Linked DNA regions of Homo sapiens: region 2 is linked to region 1. The links come from fine-mapping of genetic effects on gene expression. A gene starts in region 1. The other region holds a variant in brackets. All regions are shown on one strand. Distances are between the middles of the regions.

Evidence for each region. PIP is the estimated chance that this variant, and not a neighbour inherited with it, causes the effect. A credible set is the group of variants that fine-mapping cannot tell apart.
Region 2: its variant is the best candidate, but not a certain one, in a credible set for the expression of ZSWIM8-AS1 in whole blood (TOPMed, PIP 0.73).

The regions. Positions count from the first base shown.
Region 1 is chr10:73,798,326-73,803,618 of GRCh38, forward strand. It overlaps ZSWIM8-AS1 (ZSWIM8 antisense RNA 1), which reads right to left and starts at 3,074. Exons shown (of 4, transcript NR_038357.1): 1 at 3,015-3,074; 2 at 2,178-2,234. It overlaps ZSWIM8 (zinc finger SWIM-type containing 8), which reads left to right. Exons shown (of 26, transcript NM_001367799.1): 20 at 1-128; 21 at 677-1,165; 22 at 1,686-1,845; 23 at 1,971-2,147; 24 at 2,315-2,434; 25 at 2,692-2,870; 26 at 2,991-3,468. The coding sequence ends at 3,194. It overlaps NDST2 (N-deacetylase and N-sulfotransferase 2), which reads right to left. Exons shown (of 15, transcript NM_003635.4): 11 at 5,249-5,293; 12 at 4,864-5,034; 13 at 4,647-4,756; 14 at 4,349-4,451; 15 at 3,591-4,251. The coding sequence ends at 4,126. NDST2-ZSWIM8-AS1 (NDST2-ZSWIM8-AS1 readthrough) reads right to left here. Exons shown (of 18, transcript NR_182658.1): 11 at 5,249-5,293; 12 at 4,864-5,034; 13 at 4,647-4,756; 14 at 4,349-4,451; 15 at 3,015-4,251; 16 at 2,178-2,234.
Region 2 is chr10:73,823,739-73,829,101 of GRCh38, forward strand. It overlaps CAMK2G (calcium/calmodulin dependent protein kinase II gamma), which reads right to left. Exons shown (of 23, transcript NM_001367534.1): 15 at 4,351-4,383; 16 at 1,541-1,609; 17 at 302-346. Among named protein-coding and RNA genes, the nearest start is that of NDST2-ZSWIM8-AS1, 15 kb to the left of the region's middle. The variant GC/G (reference allele first, on the strand shown) is at 3,212.

The sequences.
Region 1 (5,293 bases):
GGGCATCACGGGCAAGAGACTCCAATATGGTGAGGGCGGCAGCAGAGCTGGCCCTGAGCTGCCTGCCTCACGCCCATGCATTGAACCCTAATGAGATCCAGCGGGCCCTGGTGCAGTGCAAGGAACAGGTATTTCTACGGGCAATCTGGGAACCTCTTCTGGGGCATCTGGGCAGGGAGGTTGGGCATGGGAAAGCTAAGGGCCCAGCTCTTGATTCCCGTATCCTGGAGTTTACAGATGATTGTTGGTCCTCTCATGGCAACATTTTACCCATTAATGTGCTTTCACACCCATCTTTCCTTTACCTTACAACTCAAAGGTTAGGTTTATTTCTATTTTACAGATAAGGAAATGGAGGCCTACGGTTTAGGGACCAAGATGATCACTCAGGATAGAAAACTTAGGGAAGGCCTCATACATCTAAGACTTGAATGGGAGGGGGCTGTTAAATTAGTTTGGAACTGGGACTATAACCTGGGTCTTGACTCATTTTGGTCAGTATTTACTCAGTGTGTGAAGCACTCACTGCTCTGATAATGGACTCTAAGCATTGACACTGACCTCTGATGATTCCCTGGGAATGAGACAGCTCTGAGGGAGACATTGGAATCTCATCTAACACCTTCCATGTGGTAAAGGCCTTTCCCCCTTAACACTCTGTGCCCCTCTCTTCCAGGACAACCTGATGTTGGAGAAGGCCTGCATGGCAGTGGAAGAGGCAGCTAAGGGTGGGGGCGTGTACCCTGAAGTGTTGTTTGAGGTTGCTCACCAGTGGTTCTGGCTGTATGAGCAAACTGCAGGTGGCTCATCCACAGCCCGTGAAGGGGCTACAAGCTGTAGTGCCAGTGGGATCAGGGCAGGTGGGGAAGCTGGGCGGGGTATGCCTGAGGGTAGAGGGGGCCCAGGGACTGAGCCGGTTACAGTGGCAGCGGCAGCAGTGACAGCAGCAGCCACAGTGGTGCCCGTCATATCGGTGGGGTCTAGTTTATACCCGGGTCCAGGACTGGGGCATGGCCACTCCCCTGGCCTGCACCCCTACACTGCTCTACAGCCCCACCTGCCCTGTAGCCCTCAGTATCTCACTCACCCAGCTCACCCTGCCCACCCCATGCCTCACATGCCCCGGCCTGCCGTCTTCCCTGTGCCCAGCTCTGCATACCCACAGGTGAGACCAGTGTTCTGCTGGGGGGTAAGGCATGGGAAAATACTGGGAATTCATAGGGGGTTGGAGTGGGTACTCTGGGAGTATAATTGGTCAGTCGGAGAGTCCTGGTGAGGTGGTGGGAGTCTGGGGGACCCAGCCCAACTAAAATAAGAAATGACGGCCGGGCATGGTGGCTCATGCCTGTAATCCCAGCACTTTGAGAGGCCGATGTGGGTGGATCACTTGAGGTCAGGAGTTCGAGACCAGCCTGGCCAACATGGGGAAACCCCGTCTCTACTAAAAATTAGCTGAGTGCACGCCTGTAATCCCAGCTTCTTGGGAGGCTGAGATGGGAATCACTTGAACCTGGGAGGCAGAGGTTGCAGTGAGCCGATATCGTGCCACTGCACTCCAGCCTGGAGGACAGAGCGAGACTCTATCTCAAAAAAAACATGTCAGGATAGCAGCTTGTGGGGGTGAAGCACGACAGCAACATCCTAATCAAGTTTGGCATCTTCCCCTTTCTTCTCCCTGCCCCTAGGGTGTGCATCCTGCATTCCTAGGGGCTCAGTACCCTTATTCAGTGACTCCTCCCTCACTTGCTGCCACTGCTGTGTCTTTCCCCGTTCCTTCCATGGCACCCATCACAGTACATCCCTACCACACAGAGCCAGGGCTTCCACTGCCCACCAGTGTGGCCTGTGAGTTGTGGGGCCAGGGAACAGGTGAATGGAGGGGAGGCACACTGGGCAGGGGAGGTGGGGAGGGAATGTTCTTTGTCTCTCTTTGGGCTCTGAGTTCCTCACATGGCTCTCACCCCACTTAGTGAGCAGTGTCCATCCAGCATCCACGTTTCCAGCCATCCAAGGTGCCTCACTGCCTGCCCTGACCACACAGCCCAGCCCTCTGGTGAGCGGAGGTTTTCCACCGCCCGAGGAGGAGACACACAGTCAGCCAGTCAATCCCCACAGCCTGCACCACCTGCATGCTGCCTACCGTGTCGGTGAGAGGACATCCCTTTCTGTGCTCCTACCTGCAGTTGTGCCAGTGGCTCTTCAGAGGACCCTTCCTCTAGCTCTTCATTTGTTTACTGTGGGGTCAGGTGACAGGTTGGGGTAAAGGGTGAAGAGGATACACCGTACCATGTGCCCACCCTTATCTATCTCCCAGGAATGCTGGCACTGGAGATGCTGGGTCGCCGGGCACACAACGATCACCCCAACAACTTCTCCCGCTCCCCCCCCTACACTGATGATGTCAAATGGTTGCTGGGGCTGGCAGCAAAGCTGGGTAACACCTCCCCTCCCTAGGACCATTGCCCCCCCCCCACCTGCTCTCCCCACCTTCCTTATCCCAGACCTCCTTCCTAGCTCTTGCTCAGAGTTGAGGCCTTGGTCGGGTATGTGTGCGTGCGCGGGGGGCGGAGGGTTACCTCAGCTCCTGGGGTGGAGGGAGGCTCTCTGCCAGGCCAGAGCTGAGATCTGTAAGTTGGGTCCCTAGGGCAGAGGTGGCCACCCCCGTCTCATGCCCCTCCCCCTGCCCCCCAGGAGTGAACTACGTGCACCAGTTCTGTGTGGGGGCAGCCAAGGGGGTGCTGAGCCCGTTTGTGCTGCAGGAGATCGTCATGGAGACGCTGCAGCGGCTGAGTCCCGCTCATGCCCACAACCACCTGCGTGCCCCGGCCTTCCACCAACTGGTGCAGCGCTGCCAGCAGGCATACATGCAGGTGACAACCTAGAATTATGGAGCAGGGTGGAGCACTTCCTGGGTGGTCTTGGACCAGAGGGAGGCAGGGCCTGTTTCTGTGCTTTGTACTAAGGCTCATCCTGCACACATCCTCCTCCAGTACATCCACCACCGCTTGATTCACCTGACTCCTGCGGACTACGACGACTTTGTGAATGCGATCCGGAGTGCCCGCAGCGCCTTCTGCCTGACGCCCATGGGCATGATGCAGTTCAACGACATCCTACAGAACCTCAAGCGCAGCAAACAGACCAAGGAGCTGTGGCAGCGGGTCTCACTCGAGATGGCCACCTTCTCCCCCTGAGTCTTTCACCCTTAGGGTCCTATACAGGGACCCAGGCCTGTGGCTATGGGGGCCCCTCACACAGGGGGAGTGAAACTTGGCTGGACAGATCATCCTCACTCAGTTCCCTGGTAGCACAGACTGACAGCTGCTCTTGGGCTATAGCTTGGGGCCAAGATGTCTCACACCCTAGAAGCCTAGGGCTGGGGGAGACAGCCCTGTCTGGGAGGGGGCGTTGGGTGGCCTCTGGTATTTATTTGGCATTTATAAATATATAAACTCCTTTTTTACTCTAGTCGACCTGGGCCTTTCCCTTCTTTCCAAATTCCATGTGCAGATGAACCTTCAACTGGGGAGGAAACTTCTGACACTTGCTTTAGTCTAGGTTTTTCCCACTCCAGGGAGGCAGACAAAACAGAAAAATAAGGATGTTTATTAAGGACATTTCTAGCCCACAGCTAGGGCTCATACTCGGCTCTATGAGCCACTGTCCGACCTCATCCCCATTCAATGTGAATGACATTAGGGAGGCCGGGCCACAGGTAGATCCCACTGCCTGGCTAAAGGGGCCATAGCAAGGGGTCCCTCCCATGCAAGGGGTCTCTCCCATAGCCAGGTATAGAATAGATACACTGCTGCGGATGAAGAGGGAAATCTCATTGGACTAATACATTCCCCTACACCCTGCCTGGACCCTCTCATTCCTCCCCACCTCCCAAGATGATGGGTCAAAGGTACCTAGCACTATTATGTGGGGTACCAAAGGAAGCCCCTTTATTTGTCCCAGAACTGTGGGAAAAGGATACCCTTCCCTTCTCAGCCATCTCAGGCCTGGGGGCTACTGAGGTAGAGGGGGAGGGGCCAGGCCACTCTAATCCCCCTTGTGGGCCCTGCTCTGGACCTGCCCCTTAGGGAAGCAGGGGGCATTTTGCTGGTATGGGAGGCTGGGACATCAGCCCAGACTGGAATGCTGCAGTTCTTCCCGAAGCCACGAGGGCACTGGCTGTCCAAGCCGGCTCAGCAGCTTCGACAACTCCAAATTATGGTTCCGGAAAAAATCCGTAAGGAAAAGACGGGACTGACAGGAGAAAATGAAGGCAGAAATGGTAAGAAGTGGGACACAGAATCAGATCCTGGAAGTGGAGAGGGATTCCCCTGCCCCTGGCTTTACTTACCTCAGTGTCCATATCTGGATACCTCCGGCCTTTGCTCCGGCCTAGACAGCGAGTCTTACCACCTTCAAGTCCCTGGCACCAAAATCCCTTATCATCATCAAACCTGCTCAACAGGAAGAGGCCATGAGGTGGCAGGGAAAAGAGAAACTCAAGTTCCATAAATGCACAATGCCCTTCCCTGCCCACAGGGACATGTCTCTCCTTGTGAGACAGAGTAAATCTATGTCTCTAACAGACATGGTCAACCTGCTTCCCCATTTCCCATACAGTACTCCTCCCCTGGGTCATGCTCTCCCACCTGAGGGTCCGTGTGTAGTTCAGAAAGGGTGTGATACCCAGGAACTTCTGGATGCTCTCCATTGAGGCTGCTGGGTTGGTACGCAGCTCTTGCCCATCCACAATCAGCAACTAAAAGGACAGGGATGTGGTTCCCTCTATATTCCTAAGAAGCCTCTGGGCTGAAGGGAAGAAGAGGGGAAGGGGAACCCCACTGAGGGCTCTTGTGGGGATTATACCTGTCCAGAGGGGTAGTAAGTCAGCCAGCGTTGTAGATGGGTAGAATAGTAGCCAGGGACAAGACAGCGGTTCTGCAGGGAGCGTAGTGCCAGAGGGGTCTGGGAGGAGGCTGAAATCACCTGATAGAAGGTATAGTTCAGAGCAACTGGGTCTCCATGGGCTCGCTGATGCTGAAGGACAAAGAGAAGGAAGGTGAAGGACTGGTGATTTGACAGTATTCTGCCCTTACGCTTGGTCTGGAGACAGACAGCACAGCACGGGTACCCGTCCCCAAGGCACTAGTTAAGTTTCTCAAACCTCACTCCTTTCTCCCTCTCTAGCAGTCACTGTCCCCTCCCCCCTCCCCCCAACCTTTAGCCTGTGTGTCCCTAGCTTCAGGCAGACCTGGTACCAGGAGTAGGCCCTGTCAGCAGGGTTGGTGAGCACTGT
Region 2 (5,363 bases), 25 kb after region 1:
TTACTCTCATTTAAACTTCCGACATATGGAGGAAGATTCTATTATTATCATCCCCAATTTGCAGATAAAGGATACTAAGGTGCAGGGCCAGGATTCAGACCAGGTCTGTCTGACTGCAAAGCCTGAGCTCTGTAAGGTATAATGCCCTTCCTCAGCATGGAGCAACTGTGGGCACAGGCTACCTTCAGCTGAGCCTCTGCAAACACCTTGGCCTCAGGGTGCAGCCTGTAGACCCCTGGGACCCAGCCCACCTGTCTCCTGCTGACCTGGAAAGCAGGAGGCAGGCTCAGGAGCCACTCACCTTGATCCCATCTGTAGCGTTGTGTACCACAGTGGTTTGTGGCTCCTGTGAGAGAAGATGAAGATTACCCTTCCGACTTGGGGACAGACTATGGCTCTTCCCTGAGGAGCCCCACCTGCACCCCAGGACCCCCGCAGACCCTATGATGACCACTGAGGCCTGCCCACCAGCCATCTCCAGAAGACAAAATATCCCGGCTCAACTGGGGTCCCGGGCAGCTGGGATAGCCCTGGATTTTGGCAGCAGCACTGGGCTGGTAAGAAAGAGAGGCCTGGCAGGTGCAGGTGCCCAGGAGGCTGACAGCAAGGGCCTCTGTCCCTGATTCCTGTCAGTTCTGAGGGCTCTTTCCACATGGGGTTCCCACGGGGCAGGTACACTAGAGGAGCTGTGGGACTGAGGGCACAGGCCGGGCCCCGCCCACAGCGTTCATCACGGGGAATGTGTGAGGCAGGAACATGGGCAGAAGAATGAGGTCTCCCAGAAAGAGCCAGGACAGGAGGCCCCCTCAGCAAGCTGAGCCCAGAGAGCTGCCCACTGCGCCCGCCTTCTGCCTTCCCTAGTTCCTGGCCCCACGCCGCCACGTCATGTGGTATGAGGGTCCGCAAGGAGGGGAGTAGCAGGCAACATCACCTCTCCCTCTTTCCCAGTCACCCCCCTGCTGACTCTCTAGTTAGCCACCACTAGCAGAGGGACCTCCAAGAGCACACAGAACCCCTGGAGGAGCCCAGAGAGAACTTAGCCAGCATGAGGCACTCCAGGAGCCTGGAGACCTCAGCACCATCCAGAGGTGGGGACCCCAGCCCTCTTTCCTGTTTCTGGCTTTGCAAAGGAGAGGCTGAGGCAGGTTTTACAAGGGGGCCTCCAAGAACTGATGTTCAGGTCCCAAGAAAGCTCCTACCCTCTCCTTTCCTAAGCAACTCACCTTCCCAGCCCCCACAGCAGACCCACTAGGGGTCCTGGGCTGGGCCTGGGAGGTTCAGCTGAGAGCCCTGATCACTCTTCCCCCCACCAGCGAAAGGAGCAGGAGCAGGAGCAGCACTTCTGCCATGCGGGATGGAGCGCGGCCAGGCGGGACAATGAAGGGGAAGGGGCATACAGGGCGGCACACAAAGCAGTCAGTTCTATGGGGACCAAGAAAGGAACAGGCCAGGAGGCCAGGGAGGGGGCACAAGAGGAGGAAGAGGGAAGGGGCAGGAGGCAGCCAGGGTCAGAGGCGGAGAAGCTGTAGTCAGGAGGTACCATGGCCGTCTGCAAGGGCGCGGGCTCTTGGGCTGGGCTTACGAGACTGTTTTTGTTGTTGCTCTGTGGCTGAGACAAGAAAACAGATGGTTTAGTTCCTCCAGAGTCCCCAAGGCCACTCAGGTTCAACTCCCAGACCTCCCTTGCCCCCTGGTCTGGCCTGGAGGAGGTAGGCCTGAGGTGGCCTCCATAACGCTGTGTAGATGGGAGCGATGGCTAGAGAGATGATCAGAGGAAGTATTTGTGGGGCCCAGAGACCTAGCTCTGGGGGCACCCTCAAGGTGGGACCAGCCCAAAGCCTTGTTTTAAAGCATCCCTCCAGAAATCTCTGCTTATGCCAGGTGCCAGGTCATTGCAAAATCCACACCTGACCCAAAGAAGTTCAAGATCTTCTTCCCACTGTACAGGAAAAAGGGGGGTAGTTTATAAGAAAGCAGAACAAAATTCAGAAACTCTGGTCCCCTATCTGTGGGCAGTCTCCTGCTGCACTTTCAACCCAGCACCTGTATTTCCTTCTTACAACACCAGCTCGAAGCCTGAAACAAAGAGGAAGGAGAAAAGAAAAGTATGCCTGGCCTAAGAGATGGTGTCCAGAGGATGGGGGTGGAAGTCCCTTTCAGACACAAAATGCATTCACTGACCTCAGGGAGCAGAGTCAGGACTGTGCTGTTCACCTTTTTGTCTGACAAATCTTAGGCCTGATCAGCTAGAAGGGCAGTGTTCCGGGGAGGGGCAGGTGAAACCCAGCGGGGCTGTAGCTGTAGTCCCAGAATCCAGCCCCCAGGACAGAGTAGGCCACACACAGGCCAACATTCCCAACAGCACCATGACCACCAGGGATATCTCCTTGCCTTTCAAAACTACATGGTGGTGGGTGGGCACGGTGGCTCACACCTGTAATCTCAGCACTTTGGGAGGCCAAGGCGGGTGGATCACCTGAGGTCAGGAGTTCAAGACCAGCCTGGCCAACATGGTGAAACCCCGTCTCTACTAAAAATACAAAAATTAGCCGGGCATGGTGGCACATGCCTGTAATCCCAGCTACTCGGGAGGCTGAGACAAGAGAATTGCTTGAACCTGGGAGGCAGAGATTGCAGTGAGCCAAGATTGCACCACTGCACTCCAGCCTGGGCAACAGAGCAAGACTCCATCTCAAAAAACCAAAAGCAAACGAACAAACAAAAACATTACACGGAGGGGCACAGCAAGGGAGGGGCAAGGGGAAGATGGAAGAAAGGAAGAAGGCTGATCTCCAGGGCAGGGAGCCATATCCATGTGATGTTCTTTGCCTCTGATAGTTCCCTAACCAGCGTACTCCATCTCACTGAGTTCCAGTGGGGTTGGGGGCCACTGAGGAGCAGCCTGATGCCTGCAAGTTCTTCAATAGGCAGTGAGACAAATGTGTGGCTACCATCCCTGCACAGGGCACAGATGATACATCGACAGCTAGAATGTGTGTCTTCTCTCCTAGGACATACACAGAAAGCATCCTGACTGTCCTACTTCTTGCCTGGAGGCCTCTTGGACCAGACCTGAAGCCGTCCACCGCCAGCTTGCTGTCAATGGCTCAGACATCCCCAAACCCAGGGCTAGGCATGGAACCTCAAGCCAGGCACCAAGTGACTCCACTGAACAAGACTCCACAGACTGCGACAGGCTAGAGAAGAGGGG[GC/G]CCAGGAGTAGTGAGACGGTGGGTCTAAACTCACGGGAGCTCTGCTGTCTCTCATTCCCACCAAGAAGCAAAGCCCACCTAGCTCAGTGAATGATGCTGACCTGTTCGGGGTTGGTTAGAGAGGGCTGCCCTACCTGTAAATCCCAGCTGAGGCCAAGACCCTCACAGGGGGCAAGGACTCCAGGGTGCCCACAAAACCTGCAGAGGGCTGGGATGTCACCCAAGTGGCCCCACCTCTGGTTTATTTATTTTTTGAGACGGAGTCTAGCTCTGTCGCCCAGGCTGGAGCGCAGTGGCGCGATCTCGGCTCACTGCAAGCTCCGCCTCCTGGGTTCACGCCATTCTCCTGCCTCAGCCTCCTGAGTAGCTGGGACTACAGGCGCCCACCACCACACCTGGCTAATTTTTTGCATTTTTAGTAGAGACAGGGTTTCACCGTGTTATGGTCTTGATCTCCTGACCTTGTGATCCACCCGCCTCGGCCTCCCAAAGTGCTAGGATTACAGGCGTGAGCCATCGCGCCCGGCCCCCACCTCTGGTTTTAATGGATGGTTTCATAATGACTCAGGCTGCTGTGTTGCCCTTGGTGCCCAGTGTCCCGTGAGAAAGATGAGTTAGCTGTCCCCCGAGGGCTGGGTGGGCAGAATAAACCACTGGGCACAGCTAGAGAGAATGGGATTTGCACGGGGGCAGAGCCAGGAGAGCGAGACTCACAAGTGGGAGCCTGCAACCAGCTCCTCTGCCCACCACACAGTTGCCCTCCAGCTGCCAGTCTGTAGGAAGCAGCTCCTCATGCCTGGGAAGCAGGGCCTCTCCTTCTGGGTGACAAGAGAGTGAGGGTCTCTCCCTTGCTTGCCCCAAGTCCCTACCAGCTTCACATCCTACCCTGGGTCGCTGGGGTCTGTCCAAGCTCCACAGCAGGGGGTGCCGTACCACCCCTTCCAATGTCCACTTTTTAGGCTACTGGGTGACCTTGGGCAATGGCCCCCGCCTGGCAGGACAGGCCACACCTGCCCACACAGCACAGACATGCAGTGAGGATGAGTGAGGCACACGCACGTGGCAGAACAGGTTTGCGTGGCTGGCAGGCGGGCACAGGCAGCATGGAGTGGGCGATGGGTGGGCAGGCAAGGCTCACCATTAGGTGCACGCTGGAACTCGACTTCCTTTTCTGGACACACCACAGCAAGAGGGAAAGAGAAGGGGAAAGAGGAGGTAAGAAGAGAAGCACAGAGACGCTGCAGGTTAGCGCACCAGTGTGGGCTCTGCATCAGGGAGAAAAGAGCGGAGGGAGACCCGGAGTCCAGCACCAGAGGGTTAAACAGCACACGGACCGACAGGCACTCACACCCTCCAGACCCTGGGAGGGAAGAACTCTTTTGTGGTCAGGTTCATAGACACAGATTTAGTATCTTCTGAGATGTCTCAGCCTTGCTCAAAAAAAGCCTCTTAAGGAGATTAAGACACAAGTCTGTGAGGTTAAGTATCATTTTGCTACAAATTTACAGGTCTGGGTTCATAGGGTTAGCTCACCCTGTAATGTTATTTATTTTCTCTCATTACTAGAACTGTCTGAAATTCAAGTGAGCAGCCACCAGGGAAAAAGCAAAAGCTACTACAGGCTCTCCTCAGCTCTAATAAAATTTGACTTCTGACTTCGCTGCATCCCTACTATGCTTTTTACATAAAGATGCTGAGCTTTTGAAAATCACCTAGCAGTTAAATGTTGGCCTTCCTTTGTCAGTATAGCCATGCTTGTTTACAATATTTGAATTTTTTATTGCATTTTGCAATTCGTGGAAAATAGAAACACAGGAGTGCCAGTGATTAAAACTACAGTGATCATAAAAATGCAGGGATGTAAGCCACAGGGAATGTTGAAAGCAGTGATTCCTCAGCCTCAACTAGATGCTCACGAACTTTACGTTCACATGTGAAACAGACGCATCAAGATGAAGACCACGTGGAACACTGAAAATATATCCCAGAAGACTGTGTCTAAAAAATGAAGGGTAATTATCAATGTCATCATTAGCTCACTGGGGGTAAGGTCCCCCTGTAATATGTCCGTCTGTCGTTCAACTTTTGCACATTCATTTAACAATGCCCAGCAAACACTGAGGGCTGTTTCAGGTAAACACAGCTGATAAA